Regions from separate parts of the Homo sapiens genome. Here region 2 is reported to be linked to region 1. Evidence: microRNA targets listed by miRTarBase, many of them from high-throughput screens and not tested one by one. Region 1 holds a microRNA gene; the other region holds the end of a gene's coding sequence. Distances are from middle to middle.

Region 1 (4,387 bases):
GTTTCTCCGATGTCCCACCCCACTCGGCCACACGGCCAGTGAGCGGCAGAGTCTTAATTAATTTTAAACCCAGGCCCATCTAGTCCATGTTTTCCTGGGCTCACATTTACCCTGTTTGTTGTCTGAAAGGGAGTCTCCATGCGGGCCCAGCCCATGGGAGGGCGCTACCAGGCCACCTCTGCAGTCCCTCCCAGCAGTCTGTAGCTACCAGGCTCCATCTGGCCATGAGATTTTAGGGACTTTGACAGTGGTGGTGAAGAAAGGCTGGTCTCTGATACGGTGGGCCGAGACATCTCCGAGAGACTCATGCAAAGCCCCCATCCTAGCCCAGTCATCCTTCCTTCCTAACTGCTCTGCCTGCATTACCTTTACCTCTTCTCCCCAAGGTTCCCTCTTACTTGAAAGTTTAAAGGATCACATATCAACCACCGCCCAGGACCACTGCAAAGCCATTTACCTGCATGTCCTCACCACCAACAACACAGCAATAAACTTCTATGAAAACAGAGACTTCAAGCAGCACCACTATCTCCCCTATTACTACTCCATTCGAGGGGTCCTCAAAGATGGCTTCACCTATGTCCTCTACATCAACGGCGGCCACCCTCCCTGGACGATTTTATATCCTTAACTTCTGGGGGAGAGGGACTGTGGCTTCCTGTCCATAAGGTGGCAGAGCCAGTGAGCAAGTTGGAGCTGTGGTCCCCCTCAGATGATGTTCAGGTGGCCAAGCTTATGGATGCTTCTCTCCCTTACCTGATCGTGTTGTGGGTAAACCTGACACACATTTGGGTAAATCGAGTTGCACATATTACCATGTTGCCCAGGCTGGTCTCGAACTCCTAAGCTCAAATGATCCGCCTGCCGCAGCCTCCCAAATTACTGGGATTATAGGCATGAGCCCTGCACCCAGCTGGAGAGCCTCCTGCTCCACTTGCACTGGGGATCAGCAGTGCACAAAACGGACAGGATCCCCTGTCCTCCCAGAGCCTGTGCTAGCAGAGGGGAAACAAGTGCGGAGAGAAGAGATTTTTACTTTTTTTGAATACTTGGGTTCAAACCTTCCTTATAGGATGCATGACCCAAAGGTATGCCCTTCCCTGCTTCTTCCTCCTTAACTTTCACTGGCCCCTGACAGGTCAGAGGGAAGCCAGGAAACTTTATAATAGTCAGAATGTGGCCCAAAAAAATGCTGTGCGTGTGTGTGTGTGTTTTCAAATTCATGAGTCTAGGATTTATTCATTACATAGAATAATAAGCAGGAAAGAGAGGGGTGACCCCACACTCCACAGGCCGTCTAGCTTATGTGAAGACAGGCATCCAGGGGGTCAGCACTGTTGACCCCCTCCTTGTCATATGGACAGGGCTCTGTCCCTCTTGCTGCCACAAAGGTTGAGAATCTAGGGAGAACCAGAAGCACCTGCCCTTCTGCCAGGCCCCTTCCCCACCCCCCGTGCATCCCTGGGTGTGGTGTCCACATGCCTGCTGCCTCACTCAGAAGGCCCTTCTGTCCCCAGACCCCACCCTCTGTTGTTTTGCACAGCAGAGGCCACTTCGTCTCATGAGCCTTTCCAGCTCTGCAGAGGCTTAGCGGGCTCTCAGCCTCCGAAGCCTGGCTTGCCATCTGCACACAGTCCCACAGGCCACTGCGCGGGCCCCTGATGACTGTGCCCTGGCGAGCGTGGTCAGGGCAAGTCGGAATCTTCCTTAACAGAGCCCCACGGACTACATCCAGCACCTGGGCTCTGCACTAGCCAGCCTGAGCCCCTGCTCCATTCCGCACAGAGTCTACCGCCAGGCCCACAGCCTGCTCTGCAGCTTCCTGCCATGGTCGGGCATCTCTTCCAAGAGTGGCATCGAGTACAGCCGGACCATGTGATGTCGGCTGGGCAGCCGCCACCAGGCCCCACCCTTCGGCCGCCCGCAGAGCCCGCCTTCCTGTCCATCTGACCCCTTCTGTTTTCTGCAAGGAGCTGCCAGCCATCTAACTGGGCTCGTCGGCCTGCCCCAGCTGCAGGCCCGGTGCTACACGGGCTCGGGAACAGAACATCGTGGGCATGCGCAGAGCATGCCCATCCGTGGCAGGTACGCCACAGCAGACACAAAGGTATGGGAGCTTGGTGCCTCCAGCCACAAAAGTGGAAGGCCCTGGATGGGCACAGAGAACGGCAGAGCCGGAAGGGGCCGTGGGGACTGCAGAGTCCACCACCTTATGCACCAGCACAGCCCAGAGGTTTGGTGACTTGTGCCAAGCTAACACAGCAGGCTCCATGGCAACTGGGCTGTGCACCCGACTTTGGATCCATCAGTGCCTTTATTTGTGTGGGGACCGAGAGGCGCCTAGTGGCTGCAGGCAGACACCATGGCCTGGAGAAGGGCTCATGCTCCTGGAGCACCCAGGCCCAGCTGTGTGGCCCATAGGCAGGGTGTGGGGTGGGCAGAGTGTCTCCGCCGGGCCTTCACCCTGCCCTGCTCTTCTCTTTCCCACAGGCTCTTCAGCTCCCCTCCCTGCTTCTGGAAACCTCTGCCTGCTGCCCTGGCCCTGCCCCCCTGCGCATGCACCGTCCCCAGGGCTGACCCAGTGTGGCTGCATTCACTGGGAGGGGCCTGCCCTCACTGGGCCTCTCCCACTCCGCTGCCTGTTCTTGCAGCTCCTTCCTGGAAAGCTGGAGGGGACTTTCTCCTGCAAGGGAGGAACGCAAGTATTATGGACACACTTGACCGTAAAGGCACAGGAGCCTCGGAACAAGGGGGCGCAATAAAGGGAATGGCCCGTCCCCTTCCAGAACCAGCCCAAAGAAGCCTGGGGGGTGAGGAGTGGCCCCCACTCCTCCATGAGGGGCTGATGAGGGGTGGGCAGCCTGGGGGAGGCTTTCCTCGCAAGCACAGAGCTCTGAGGCTCAGCCCCCTGGCACAGGCGGTCACGCATCAGGACGGTTCCTACTCCTCAGCACCTTCCGTGCAGTTACCAGTGCCCTGGGAGGTCACACTGCCCGTCGGACCTTGGCATGCTCCATTCAGCTGACCTGCTGAGGACAGGCATCGCCGAGACTCCTTGGGTCCTCCCCGCCCTCCCTCATGCTGCCACAAGCTGCTGCTCCAAGGCCTGGCCACATGCAGACAGGAGGAAGCTGAGCTCGACATTAGGCCTCAAGGCTGCCATCTGTCTTGTAGGGCCTGGCCTTGTGGGCAGGGGGCAGTCCTGTGCCTTGTGGGCCCTCAGCCTCTGAGGGCAGAGATGCTGTCAGTGCCGCAGGTGCATCACATACTTCTAGCATCCTCTCCACCCTGCATTCCAAATGCTGCTTGCTGCCTGCCCTGCCCTCCGATGCAGGGGTGGGGTGGGGGGCGGAGTCCCGCCCAGCATAGCTGCAGTGTCACAAAGCCATGGCAGAGGGTCCTAGCGGCGCCACCCTGCCCCAGCCTGAGGAGGAGGGAGAGGGAGGAACAACCCTGGGCAGACGGGGCCTCAGGGACCTGTGTCCTTCCGCCTCCAGAGCTGCCCAGCCACGGGCTCTCAGGGTGCTGGGGCAGCCCCAGGTCCCCTCTTGAACTCAGCTGGGGCCAGGGGCCCTCAGAATGAAGGCAGGCACCAGGCAGGAGCAGCATCCCCCTCCTTGACGGTGCTGGCAGGAGGGCCGCGCCATGCTGACTGCTTGAACCTCTGCTGACCTGACAGTGCTGGCGGGAGGGCCGCACCATGCTGACTGCCTGAATCTCTGCTGAGGCTGCCTGCCTGCCGGGCCCAGCTCAGCGCCCTCTCCACTGCGAATCAGTGGCGATCATGTGATTTCTATTTCTGCCCCACAGGGTAAGGGACGAGTCTTCTGGAAGGCTCTGCCATGGACATTTGTCCTCGGGCTCAGAGGCCCCACCCTGCCCCACACCTGCCCCTGATCACTGCAGTGTCCAGCCCAGTGTTGAACAGATTGTAGCGTTCTGTCTCATTACGAGCAAATAAATAGACTTTCATTGGAGTTCGTCACATCCTGTTTCCCGCACCCGCCTGGCTGCACCTCGGGCCTCACCCTGTAGCTGAAGTTGGCCTCGAGCTACTTGTCACTGGCAAGGCCCAAGGATGGCTTCCAGATAAAGGGGACAGTGGTTTTGTGTGATTAACCCTGTCAGAGAATGAGGACCTTTGGCCAGGCACGGTGGCTCACGCCTGTAATTCTAGCACTTTGGGAGGCCGAAGTGGGCGGATCACGAGGTCAGATCGAGACCAGCCTGGCCAACATGGTGAAACCTCATCTCTACTAAAATACAAAAATTAGCCGGGCGTGGTGGTGTGCACGTGTAGCCCCAGCTACTCGGGAGCCTGAGGCAGGAGAGCTTGAACCCAGGAGGCGGAGGTTACAGTGAGCTGAGATGGCGCCATTGCACTCCA
Region 2 (4,387 bases), 71 Mb from region 1:
ACAAGGTTACCCAGAAAGTTATTGGTAGATCTGAACTGTTGACCTAAGCAATTTTTTTTTCCTTAAGTGGAAATGGTTTTATTTTAGCTCCCTTTTATAATTGTTTTTTGAAAAATGTCCTGTGATGAGAAAGATAAAATGTGTTCCAAATGATAACGAAATTAAGGTAATTGATAACGAAATCTTTATCAAATGGGGAAGTGACATTTTTCTTTTAAAAACTTGCCTCACCCAACAAAGCTAGGAATTTTCTTAGAATGTAAGAACTTGCCTGATAACATGGTACCCTGATGCCTTTTCCTGCCCTTTTTAACTGTGGGTTATTACAGAGATATCAAAGACACGACGGTGGGCACTCTGTCCCAGCGGATCACAAACCAGGTCCATGGTTTGAAGGGACTGAACTCCAAGCTTCTGGATATCAGGAGCTACCTGGAAAAAGTCGCCACAGGCAAGCTGCCCATCAACCACCAGATCATCTACCAGCTGCAGGACGTCTTCAACCTGCTGCCAGATGTCAGCCTGCAGGAGTTCGTCAAGGCCTTTTACCTGAAGACCAATGACCAGATGGTGGTAGTGTACTTGGCCTCGCTGATCCGTTCCGTGGTCGCCCTGCACAACCTCATCAACAACAAGATTGCCAACCGGGATGCAGAGAAGAAAGAAGGGCAGGAGAAAGAAGAGAGCAAAAAGGATAGGAAAGAGGACAAGGAGAAAGATAAAGATAAGGAAAAGAGTGATGTAAAGAAAGAGGAGAAAAAGGAGAAAAAGTAAAACATGTATTAAATAGCTTTTTTAATTTGTAAATTAAAATCTTACAAACTAAATCAGTGTGCTGCTAGAGGGTTCTTTTTCACTTGACATGCTTATTAGAAAGCTGACCCAACAAGAGCTCTCTGCCTCCGGTCACTCTTGCTGTGGTGCTACGTGGAAGTGAATGGAGACTGATCTCAAATCTGAACTGCAGCTTTCGCTGCTGTGAGTTGGGGATATGATAGTCAGCTCAGGCTTCAGATTGTATGAGAAAAATGAAGAGAAGTCAACAAATATTTTGGTACTCTTCATTCATTTATCTCTAAAACCAGGAGTTGAATTTTCCTCATCTTGAAAGACTCTTGGGGTCTGTTTCTGGTATTTTACAAAATTGCTAAGTGGAATGCATGAATTGCATTATGTTCTCTGGTAACACGTAGAGTTCAGACCCTTCTGAACTCTGTTGATAATACCACACCATGTTCTGGACCCATAGCTCTGGCATCCTCAGGGGTTGTGATCCAGCTCCATATATTGTTTACCTTCAAAGATACAATTAAATGGCTTGATTTTTAAGCTGTGTTCTAGTCGTTTTTGACTTCGGGAGTAGTGATCTGTAGTTTCCAGAAGCAGCCAAGACAGTCTTCGATTGGAGCTGCCTTAAGTTCTCTTGCACTTGGTATCATTTATGAAAGAGCATCTCATTCCCCTAAATGGAAACAGGCAGTCTGCTGTAGTGAGGAGAGTTCTCTGAGCCCAGAAGACCCGGGTTCCAGTTTGTACCTCAGATCCCTCATTTATGAGGTGGTAGGTTGCAGTCCGTCATCTCTGAAGTCCCCAGAACAGTGTTTCAAAAGGGACACATTTACCACACTGCAGCAAGTTGTAAGTACCTCAGACCACAGGCCAAACAGGCATGTTACTAAGAATGGAACAATGTTTCCCCCAAGATAAGTGCACAGGACTCCTAGAGGAACAAATTAAATAAGGCACTAAATCATTTGACATACAGTAGTCACGGATATTAAATTTCCTCTCTTGAACAGATAGAACCTCTCAAATGCACTACGTGGATTATTCATCTTCAAAGATATAAGAATACAATAAAATAGCACAAAAACTCAGTTGCATCTCAGAAACCACTTCATGAGGTTATAATGCCTTAAAGTAATCAGAAGCATCGATTTTTATTCCATAGACCTGCCAAAGAGCTAGTTAGTGGGAATTTGGGAATAGGTAGAGCTTGAGTATCCCTTATCTGAAATGCTTGGAACCAGAAGTATTAAAAGATTTAGGAAATTTTTTTTTTTAATATTTGCATTATGCTTAACGGCTGAGCATGCCTAATAGGAAATGTTCCAATGAGCATTTCCTTTCAATACCATGTAAGTGCTCAAAAAGTTTCAGATTTTGGAGCATTTCAAATTTTTGGATTAGGGGCACTCAACCTGTAGTAAAATGTAAAATGGCTCTTATTCAGCATAAATAGAGGCATGCCCCCATCAGGGGTCATTTCAGAGTTCATCAAGATTCTGAGATAAAAAAGCATGGTACAGTGAAAACAACAAAATTGACTTTCCTGTTTCAGAAGCCAAAAGTCAGACGGTTTGTATCTAATTGAATAAAAGAAACTTGAAGTACGTAAGTTAAAACTTGAGGTGTATCCCAAACCATGGGAGCGTTGAAGAAGCTTTTGAGATCTGGGTGCCATGTTTGGAACACACTGATGTGACAGGTTGCCTGGACCACAAACCCTGGCTAGGAAATGGGCAAGAGCAAGACCCAGGCATCGGGGGAGAGCCAGGTGCCATGGTGCTGAGGCTCTAAGCAAGGGAACGCAACGTCATCCTAAGGAACGGGTCCTGTATGTAAGGCTCAGGGGCCAGTGCACACCTGAATTGACACCGCACAGGATTCAGGTCTGCCTTTAAGAACATAATGCAGGGTTGGGGGCAGTGGCTGGTGCTTGTAGTCCCAACACTGGGAGGCTGAGGCAGGAGGATCACTTGAGGCCAGGAGTAAGAGACCAGCCTGAACAACATAGTAAGAGCCATCTACAAAAAATTCTAAAATTGCCTGGGTGTGGTGGGATGTGCCTTAGTCCTAGCTACTGAAGAGGCTGAGGTAGGACACTGGAGCCCAGGAGCTCAAGGTTACAGTGAGCTGTGATCACATGCCACTGCACTCCAGCCTAGGCAACAGAGCAAAATCCTGTCTCTTTAAAAAACAAAAAGTATCATTTGGATTTAAAAGACTTTCCCAGGGTCCAGTGAACTAGCACAATGCCACAGACTTGTAAGTTGGTCATAGTTTGATGAACTGAAATGTTTATTGAGCATCTAAGAACATAGGAATCCCCAGGCCTTATTATTTTTAATAGTTTGGCCCACATACGGACAAAACTGACTTCTACCTTCCTAACAGAAATCTTCCATTTCTACTTATGAAGAAAATAGCTTATAGCCTGTGGAGTCACTTAGGCATATTTTCTAAGGCCAAATTGCTGCCATCATGTAGAAGAGGGGGAGCCCAGTAGTGCTACCGATGAAGTCTTGCTCATACAAATAGCGGCTGACTTGACTGCAAAACCCAGGGCCCACCCCTAAAATAAAGCCTTACATTTGTGTATTCTGGCATTCTGGAGATGAGACTTCTAAACGGCTTTTGCTGGCTTTGGAAACACTAAAAAAGTATTCTGGAAAAAGTGTGATCCTCAGCCTGGATCTCATCTTCCTAGCTGCAACATTAGCTTCCCTTCGATTTCACCACAGCTTCAGAATGACTGCCTAATGGATTTCAGGCTGCTCCTGTGACACCTTACAGAGGATGCTGTTCACTCCTGAATTACGGTTTTCTGTTTGAAAACACGAAATATGCGAGTTATAGACTGGGGATAAATGTGGAGAGGGTCCTGAAGTCAAGGAGAAGATTTTACCAAAACTAGAGCACTTCAATGGAGAAGTAGGCGGAGTGTGGTGGCTCATGCCTGTAATCCTAGCACTTTGGGAGGTCGAGGCTGGTGGATTACTTGAGGTCAGGAGTTCAAGACCAGCCTGGCCAACATGGTAAAACCCCATCTCTACTAAAAATACAAAAATTAGCTGGGCGTGGTGGTGTGCACCTGTAATCCCAGCTACCTGGGAGGTTGAGGCAGGAGAATCGCTTGAACTGGGGATGTGGAAGTTGCAGTGAGCCGAGATTGTGCCACTGCACTCCAGCCTGGGCAACAGAGCGAGACTCTGTCTCAAAAAAAAAAAAAAAAAAAATTGCCAGAAGCAGATGAAAGACAACCACAGGTTTAAATGAAAACAAGCTGAAACAATGCAAACTTTTTATACTAGATATTCGACTTAAAAATATCTCAATGAAGGGTTAGTTTTCTCAAAAAAAAATGAAAAAGAAAACAGGAAATAGCCCTCAACTTATGGAAAAGAATGAAATCTCCCATTCACTGGGTAGTTATGCAAAGGCTTTTTCTTCTACCATTTTCCATTAAGCAGAATAAAACTTGAGAATGAGTTAGGATTGTTTGTTAGACTATAACATGCTAACAAAACCACTTTCATCTGCCCTGTCTGGGAAAATGCGGTGGATACAGGACATGTGGGAAGGCAGAGAAACATTTGATTTATAT

The links. The annotated mature microRNA hsa-miR-6126 reads GUGAAGGCCCGGCGGAGA and lies in region 1 at 2,446-2,463, opposite strand. An mRNA with a match to its seed (bases 2 to 7 or 8) in the 3' UTR can be bound and repressed. Matches are read on the target gene's strand: a 7mer-m8 pairs with bases 2 to 8, a 7mer-A1 pairs with bases 2 to 7 and ends in A, and an 8mer does both.
Region 2: miRTarBase lists PSMD7 as a target of hsa-miR-6126. Seed matches in the 3' UTR shown: 7mer-A1 at 1,295-1,301.

What each region holds. Positions count from the first base shown.
Region 1 is chr16:3,482,977-3,487,363 of GRCh38, forward strand. MIR6126 (microRNA 6126) reads right to left here and starts at 2,493; the gene lies at 2,405-2,493. It overlaps NAA60 (N-alpha-acetyltransferase 60, NatF catalytic subunit), which reads left to right. Exons shown (of 8, transcript NM_001083601.3): 6 at 387-621; 7 at 1,723-2,085; 8 at 2,491-3,977. The coding sequence ends at 1,879.
Region 2 is chr16:74,304,960-74,309,346 of GRCh38, forward strand. It overlaps PSMD7 (proteasome 26S subunit, non-ATPase 7), which reads left to right. Exons shown (of 7, transcript NM_002811.5): 7 at 330-1,329. The coding sequence ends at 774. Among named protein-coding and RNA genes, the nearest start is that of PCHILR, 6.2 kb to the right of the region's middle.